Linked DNA regions of Homo sapiens. The protein of the gene in region 2 purifies or fractionates together with the protein of the main gene of each other region. This does not show direct contact. Each region holds a gene or a part of one and is shown on either strand. Other genes may lie near its edges.

Region 1 (3,865 bases), on a different chromosome or scaffold from region 2:
TTTTCTTTAAAAAAAAAATTTTTTTTTTTGAGATAGAGTCTCACTCTGTCACCCAGGCTGGAGTGCAGTGGTGTGATCTCGGCTCACTGCAGCCCCAGCCTCACGGGTTCAAACGATTCTCATGCCTCAGCCCTCTTGAGTAGCTGGGATTACAGGCACACACCACCACATTGGGCTAATTTTTTTGTATTTTTAGTAGAGATGCAGTTTTGCCATGTTGGCCAGGCTGGACACAAACTCCTGGCCTCAAGTCATCTGTCCACCTTGGCCTCCCAAAGTGCTGGGATCACAGGCATGAGCCACCACACCTGGCCCCCAAATGCTTTAACAATAATTTTCTTTGGGGCCGGGCGCGGTGGCTCATGCCTGTAATCCCAGCACTTTGGGAGGCTGAGGCGGGTGGATCACAAGGTCAGGAGATCAAGACCATCCTGGCTAAACACGGTGAAACCCTGTCTCTACTAAAAATACAAAAAATTAGCTGAGTGTGGTGGCAGGCACCTGTAGTCCCAGCTACTTGGGAGGCTGAGACAGAAGAATGGCATGAACCCAGGAGGCAGAGCTTGCTGTGAGCCAAGATTGCACCACTGCACTCCAGCCTGGGCGACAGAGCGAGACTCCATCTCAAAAAAATAATAATAATTTTCTTTGGGAAGGGAGTTGAATTAGGGTTGAGGTGGGCTTTAATTTTTATTACTTCACTACTGTTTCATTTTAGTTTTAAAAACTTTTGTGACTTTACAAAATGGGATTTAAAATGATATATACTATCTTCATGTACAGTAGAAAATCAGTTTTTAATAAAATTTTGGTTTACCATTTTCCATCTTTGTGCAGGACATCATGGTGATGTTGGGGCTCCCATAGCTGATGTTATTCTCCCAGGAGCTGCTTACACAGAGAAGTCTGCTACATATGTCAACACTGAGGGTAGAGCTCAGCAGACTAAGGTAGCAGTGACACCTCCTGGCTTGGCAAGAGAAGACTGGAAAATTATAAGAGCACTCTCTGAGGTATAATTTCTGAGTCATTTCTTAGTGATGCTACTAAAGGCATATTTGATATTTTAGCCTGTTAGAATGATTTTCAAAGTCAAGGAAGATGCCAGTCTGAAATGCAGAGATGATTTGAATAATTTCTATAGAAAACATGTATTCAGAAACAGGAATTCAAGGTTACAGTGAGCTCTCATTGCACCGCTGCACTCCAGCCTGAGGGACAGAGCAAGACCCTGTCTCTTAAAAAATAAAGGAACTTGAAATTGGTGCTTTTATTTTATTTTATTTATTTTTGAGACAGAGTTTTTCTCTGTTGCCCAGGCTGGAGTGCAGTGGCGTGATCTCAGCTTACTGCAACCTCCACCTCCCGGGCGCAAGCTTCCTGAGTAACTGGGATTACACGCATGTACCACCAAGCCTGGCTAATTTTTATATTTTTAGTAGAGATGGGGTTTCGCCATGTTGGCCAGGCTGGTCTTGAACTCCTGGGCCTCAAGCAGTCCTCCCACCTCGGTCTCCCGAAGTGCTGGGATTACAGGTGTGAGCCACTGCACCTGGCCTGAAATTGGTGCTTTTATTGTTGAAAATTGTTGACTTGTCTTTTGCCTGAAAATACATCTGTTAGCTCTTTATTGATGTAAAAGTAAGCATCCTGACTTTTAAAATAATAACACATTGTAAACTTTATGTATTTTAATAACAGGTTAGCAAAAACATTTGGATTTAGCATAGTATTGTCTCTTCATTTCATAGAGTCACTAATGTACTGACAGCTGTGAATGAATTAGAATTTTTGATATTTGTGTTCCCTGCTTAACTGCTTCCTTCATAAATGTATGTCTACTAATGGACACCAATAGGTTTTTCAGTAGTGCTGCATTATTTCACCATAGTTACAATTATCTATTATTTGATATTTTTAAGTATTAAAGCTTTTTGTTGTTTTTGGGGACCTGACATGTTGTAGATTGCTGGAATGACTCTTCCATATGATACTCTGGATCAAGTAAGGAACAGATTGGAAGAAGTCTCTCCTAATCTTGTTCGATATGATGATATTGAAGGGGCTAATTACTTCCAGCAAGCAAATGAGCTCTCAAAGGTAACAGCTCGCCTATGAGCAGTTTTCATAATGTTGTATCTACTGGTGTAACAGTACTAGTTTTCCATATTATTGTTGATCTCTTCTTTTTTGTGCAGCTAGTGAACCAGCAGCTTCTTGCTGACCCACTTGTTCCACCTCAGCTAACTATAAAAGACTTCTACATGACAGGTATGTAATTGTCAACATGACTCTGCCAAATACGAAAGGTAAGAAGTAATCAGATCACCTCATTTGGTGTTATAATTCCAATTTGTGATTGATAGTGTTTGCAATTCTTAATCTTTGAAGGTTTTCAAACATTGGAACTAACGTAAGCATATTTTCTGATTCTACTCTAGTTTTTTTGTTTCTGAAATGTAAGCAAAGTTTGAAAATCCAAGCAATTAATAGATTTTAAATATAAAATTTTGCTGTTGTAAGGAAAGTCACTGTGTAGCAATTTATGGTGAATTTTCCAAAGTGGCAAATAACTGCAGGTTTTTCTGAGAATTATAGGTGGAAGAATCAAAACATTTAAATGTGAAACATGTTAAACAGTGCTTCTGATGTAAATTGTTAGGAATGTTTTTAAGGAATGCAGACAAACTGAAACTTGTTTATTGCAGATTCTTAGAACAGTTGATACAACATCTAGGTTATGAGGTAGTTAATAGTTGATAGATTATTTTGACTAATTTTCTATCTAAAAGCACATAGAACTCTTAATTTTTTTATATAGTTTGTATCTAAGATTTTTTAAATAAGTATTTTAGTTAGATAATAAAGATTACCTTCATTGTAAAATAATACCTATGCTCAAAAGCACAACAAAAAATCACTTCTATGGTATTTATCTGCGAACTTATGAACACAAAGAAGGAAACAACAGACACTGTAGTCTACTTGAGAGTGGAGAGTGGGAGGAGGGAGAGGTGCAGAAAAGATAAGTCTTGGGTACTGGGCTTAATTCCTCGGTGATGAAGTATTCTGTACAACAAATCCCTGTGACATGAGTTTACTGGTGTAAAAAGCCTTCACATGTACCCCTGAACCTAAAAGTTTTTTTTTTTTTAAAAAAAGAAAAATCACTACCCTCCCACTATCAAGAAATAACTATAATTATTTTTAACATTTTAGTCACTCTTCCTCCAGGGACATACATATGCATTATACACATATATATTATATTAATTAACTATTGTTATTTATATGTAATTATTACTGTTTACATGTACGTGTGTGTGTGTGTGTGTGTGTATAATTTTTGAGATGAGATTTTACTCTGTCACCCAGGCTGAAGTGCAGTGGCACAATCTTGGCTTGCTGCAACCTCTGCCTCCTGAGCTGAAGTGATCCTCCCACCTCAGCCTCCTCGGTAGCTAGGACTATAGGCGCATACCACCACATCCAGCTAATTTTTGTATTTTTTGTAGAGATGGGGTTTCGCCATGTTACCCAGGCAGATCTCAAACTCCTGGACTCAAGCAGTCCACCCACCTCAGCCTCCCAAAGTGCTGGGACTACAGATGTGAGCCACCACCCCTGGCCTATATATTTTTTAGTGAAACAGAAGGTGAGATTAGGCCTGGTGCAGTGGCTCATGCCTGTAATTCCAGCATTTTGGGAGGCTGAGGGGGGCAGATGGCTTGAATCCAGGAGTTTCAGACCAGCCTGGGCAACATAGTCAGATCTGGTCTCTTTAAAAAAAAAAAAGTGAGATTATTCACTTGGGGGTTGATAGCTTTATTGAAATATAATTCATGTACCCTAAAATTTACTCATG
Region 2 (4,231 bases):
GGGCTTCCAGGATAAGGGGTCTGATCCCTCTGTGACCTTGGATCTGTGGGCAGCCCTGTGCAGCCACCTGTGGGATTGGCCCTCTACTCAGAAACGTGTAGCACAGCCAGAGGCCTTACTTGGATGACAGGGCTCACGGCAATGAGCTCACGCATTGTGTTTCTGTCTAGGAGTGTGTTCCCCAGGCTCTCTGTCTGAGAGAAGAACTGGTCAGAGGTGCACTTGTGGAGGCATCTGCCTCTCTCGCACACTCAGGCACTGGATAAGGCGGACATCTTTATTCAAGCCAGCAAATGACACGCCAGGAGCCCAGGTGAGCCGGAGTGCTCTGCCCAGCCTGGCTGCAGTTGTTGGCCAGAGCTCAGAGCTCTCCTGGGCCTGGCAGATGGCTCTGCCTGCACTTCTTTTTGGGACTCAGAGACTAAATTAGAAAGGGGTGGGGGTAGCCCCAGGAGAACCCACTTTCATTGTCAATCTTGAGGTCAAAGAAAACCAGAGGTCTGTCTTCTGCTTGGGGGTCAGCAAGGTTCTCGTCCAGGACCCTGAGGGTGCTGGGGCCTTCCAGCTGGAGGTCACTGGACTCACTGCTGCTGTCATCCAGCTCTCGGGAGGACTGCAACACAGAAAAACCAAGCGTCAGGGATTCAGAGGGCCAAGGCAAGCACCTGTGCAGAACACTAGCAAGCTGGTATAGCTGGGAGCATCTGCGTGCACATGAAGGAGGGTGTACCACTGGGAAAGGGGACGTGTGCACAAGAGAAGGTATGTGTGCATGAATGGGTGTGAACTGGGTGTGTCACATGTGAGGGTTACATGTATGAACCAGGGCATACACCCTCATGAGTAGGGGAGGAAGGGTGACACACACAGGTTGTGAACGTGCATGTGTGGGAATGAATCCAAGTGCTAAATCTGTGTGTGCATGCACAGTTAAGTGTGAGCTGTGAACCTGCGTTGACACAAGTGTATGAAAGTGTGAGAGAAAATGCCAGTGGGTGTGTGCATGAGTGTGCTGTGCTGCTTATGGAGGCTCAGGGAAGGAGCCATCTGCTATGGCAGGCAGGACCTGAGATGTCTGCTCCTAATTTCATCTTTCTGAGCAGACTCAGAAGAAACACCAAAACTTGGGACGGGAGAAAGAAGCCTCATCTTGAACCCCAGATGATTCTTTGGAAGGGGTCGGGAGCCTGCCTTTTCTTGTCCCCGAAGTCAGCCGAGGTGCCAGTGTCCTACACAAAGGCGAGGGGAAGGACTGCTTGGCCTCCTGAAGGCCACATCTAGGTGGACACCCAGGTCCTTGGCAGTGAGAGAGCAGTGGAGGCTCTTGGCATCTGCCCCAGCAGCTTAGAGAAACCTGAGTTTTGGGAGTCCTTCAGGTGAGGCGTTCTCTCCTGTCCCAAGGTCCTGGTGGGAACACTGTTCGAGAAGCCATGGGGTGGGGAGCCAGAGGATGAGGGAAGGGCTCCAGCTCTGAGATTTTCCCAAGGGACTGGGACTACAGAGGGAGGTGGAGCCTCTGATGGTAATACAGAGTTAATTGCTTATCATCTGCTCAGCTGCCAAGCCCAGATGTTTAGTCTTTGATGACCAACTTGGAACCTCCCATGAATGCCACCTGTGGACGTTAGCCAGAGACCAGCAAGGAAGAGACATGGACAGGATCACAGGGCCAATTGGGAGCATGGCTGGGACAGAGTCCAGGGCAGGCCTTGGGTTTTTCCTCTTTATGGACTGCCGCTGGCTTCTCAATGAAGTTGGTGTCACCTGGTGCTAAAGCCTCAGTTAATTCTGGCCTCTGGCTAATGTCCCTGGCCTAGGAGGCAGCACATTTCCCCAGACCCTTCCAATGCCCAAGTGAAACATCTGCTTCCAACCAAGCTTCAACTGAGAGAAAAAGCGTTTCCACCCACAAGTAACCTAAGATGTGGTGGGTTTTTGTAGGAGTGGCTGGATTTCACTGGATTTGCATTTCACAGCCCTGCTCCAGGCTCATCAGCTTTCTGCCAGTTATTGTCAGAAGCAGACACTCACTATGAATCCATCTAGAGCTGGCTTTGCCTCTTCATATCCAGGGATCTAGTCAGAGAGTCTGCCCAGCGCCTCGCATCTCCAGATCCTCATTCAGCCACGCTGTCAAAAGCTGATTTCACACGTCTTGCTCCGGGTGAGCCCACACTGCTGTCTCGCCTTTCCAACTCGGTTTCCTCCCTGTAAGGAGCCTTCTACAAGGCGTCTTCCTAGCTTGTAGCTGGGTGGCTGGAGACTCCACCTTCTCCCGCTTTGGGAGAATCCAGTTGTTTCCTCTCTCCAGGCTTCACTGGGCAGCAGCGCTCTCCCACAAGCTGGTGGAGGGGCTGGGCTCCCCTTCTGGGTCCTCCCTGGTTCAGATCCTTGGTGCCAATAGCTGAGGCTGAGTCCATGCTGCCACCCACTGACATGGCACACAGGACTTTCTCTTTTTCGTTCTTCTTCCTGCTCCAAACCCAACTGGAAATGCCCCTTTGTGTTCCTGAGTGCCTCCACAAAGCTCGGGGCAATGTCCTCGGCCTTAGAACCAGTCTTCCCGCCTTCAGATCTGCTCTTCCAAGAGGAGAGCTCCCTGGAGAGCCACAGTACTGTCTCTTTAGGCCACCCCTCCCATCGTTACAGCAGGGTCATTTATGGCAGCCACTAGAACCTCGTTTTTAGAGCCTTCCATTGTCCCGGGGCCAGGGAAATGTCCTTTGTCCTAAACTTACTCGAGCTGCCTTCTCTAAGAAACCTCTACTGTCTCCTTTAATAAAAGGACACCCCCTTTCCACCAAGCTTGTTAATGGAGGAGAGGCTGGACCTTTCAGCCCTGACTCACTTCCTCCAAAATTCCTCTTGCCCTTGGGGACTTCCATAAAGTATGGCCACCCATGGAGCTGGTCTCACTGGAACTCCAGCCAGCTGTAAACCCAGAATTCTCCCCTGCTCCGCCTTAAACTCCAGCATCACAGCTGGGGAGTGCTGACGCATTTAAACAAGACTTTCTGAAAGACTCAGGTTTGCCAGCAGGGCCATCAGACATAGTGGCCTGGTGCAGAACATACTCCCCTCCCTGCTCACTAGGGGAGACTCTCCCATTCTGCCCCCAGGCCCCACACCTTGGCCTTATTCCGCAAATTAGGATAACTGGGTGTCGGGGGAGCATAGAGAGGGACAGTCACTGGAAAAGACTTAGATTTGCTTGGAAGAGAAAAGGAAGGGGGACAGAAGAAAGAAGATGGGAAACAGAGCCTTGAGCCTGCGTGTGAGGACCGGGAATCAAGGGGGAAAGCTTTGCTATGCAGTGAGAGATGCCAGGCGCCAAAGAAAAGGGGAAGAAGGACTGAAGAAGTGCTGCTGGGGTTATGAGCTGGATTCCCTTTAATGTTCTTTCAAAAGATGCAAGTAAATACTGGGATTTATTTCTTTATTATACTTGGTTAATGGACATTGTTTCTTTGAATGCAAAACTGTGTTCAGGCTGAGCCTCGTGAGAGCCAGGATTTTTTCAGGATATACATGCAACTTGGATACACCTGCAATCTGGCTCATGAGCTACATCCATCTCACTCCCCTTCCTCATAGATTTCACGGCCTGAGCAGGTCAAGTGCATTCTAACTCAACACAGCAGGTCTAACAGTCGTCCCAAGCATGCTCAGAGGAAGTGGCTGGATTGGCATTGTAATCACACTCCAAAAGTCCAGGAGGTACATCAGGGAAGATCCAGCCTCTCCCCTCCTCTGCGGTATTACACCCTGGTATGAAAATGTCACCTGCATTCAAGACTGCCACATCTATAAACAAATGAGCAGCATTCCTCTACCACAGACATGCAATGAATCCCCCGATTCAGTGGTTCTTGACTTTGGTTAGGCATTCATAGCTTTAAGAAAAAACTGAGGCCCAGGCTGCACCCAAGACTGATTCGATTAGAATCTCAGGGCGTAGGACCTAGGAATCTGTAGTTGGGAAAACTCCCCAGTGTACAGCCAGCTTGAGAACAATTGTCCTTATCACTGATTCATTCCAGGTTTGCTCATCAGCCAAACACAAGCCAAACTCTGATAGTCAGCATCCAGCCTCTGGAAGATACAGAACATCTGACATTCATGCTTATCAAGAGCCCTCAAGCTCCTGAAGAACTTTCTGAGCACTTAAGCATCAGCTACAGCTGGGATCAGTTTGGCAAGACACATGCATTGCTATCTTTCTGCAGACACA

Evidence for each region. Proteins that work in one complex are often made in the same cells at the same time.
Region 1: the proteins of PML (region 2) and NDUFS1 purify together in Homo sapiens (affinity purification with mass spectrometry; 4 studies listed by BioGRID and IntAct, with this or other methods). This does not show direct contact.

What each region holds. Positions count from the first base shown.
Region 1 is NC_000002.12:206,124,945-206,128,809, reverse strand, and holds part of NDUFS1 (NADH-ubiquinone oxidoreductase 75 kDa subunit, mitochondrial isoform 1 precursor), read left to right. Parts: intron 1-837; coding exon 838-1,013; intron 1,014-1,965; coding exon 1,966-2,100; intron 2,101-2,198; coding exon 2,199-2,271; intron 2,272-3,865.
Region 2 is NC_000015.10:74,039,371-74,043,601, reverse strand, and holds part of PML (protein PML), read right to left. Parts: intron 614-4,231; coding exon 463-613; coding exon of another isoform or gene 422-462; exon of another isoform or gene 264-421; intron 1-263.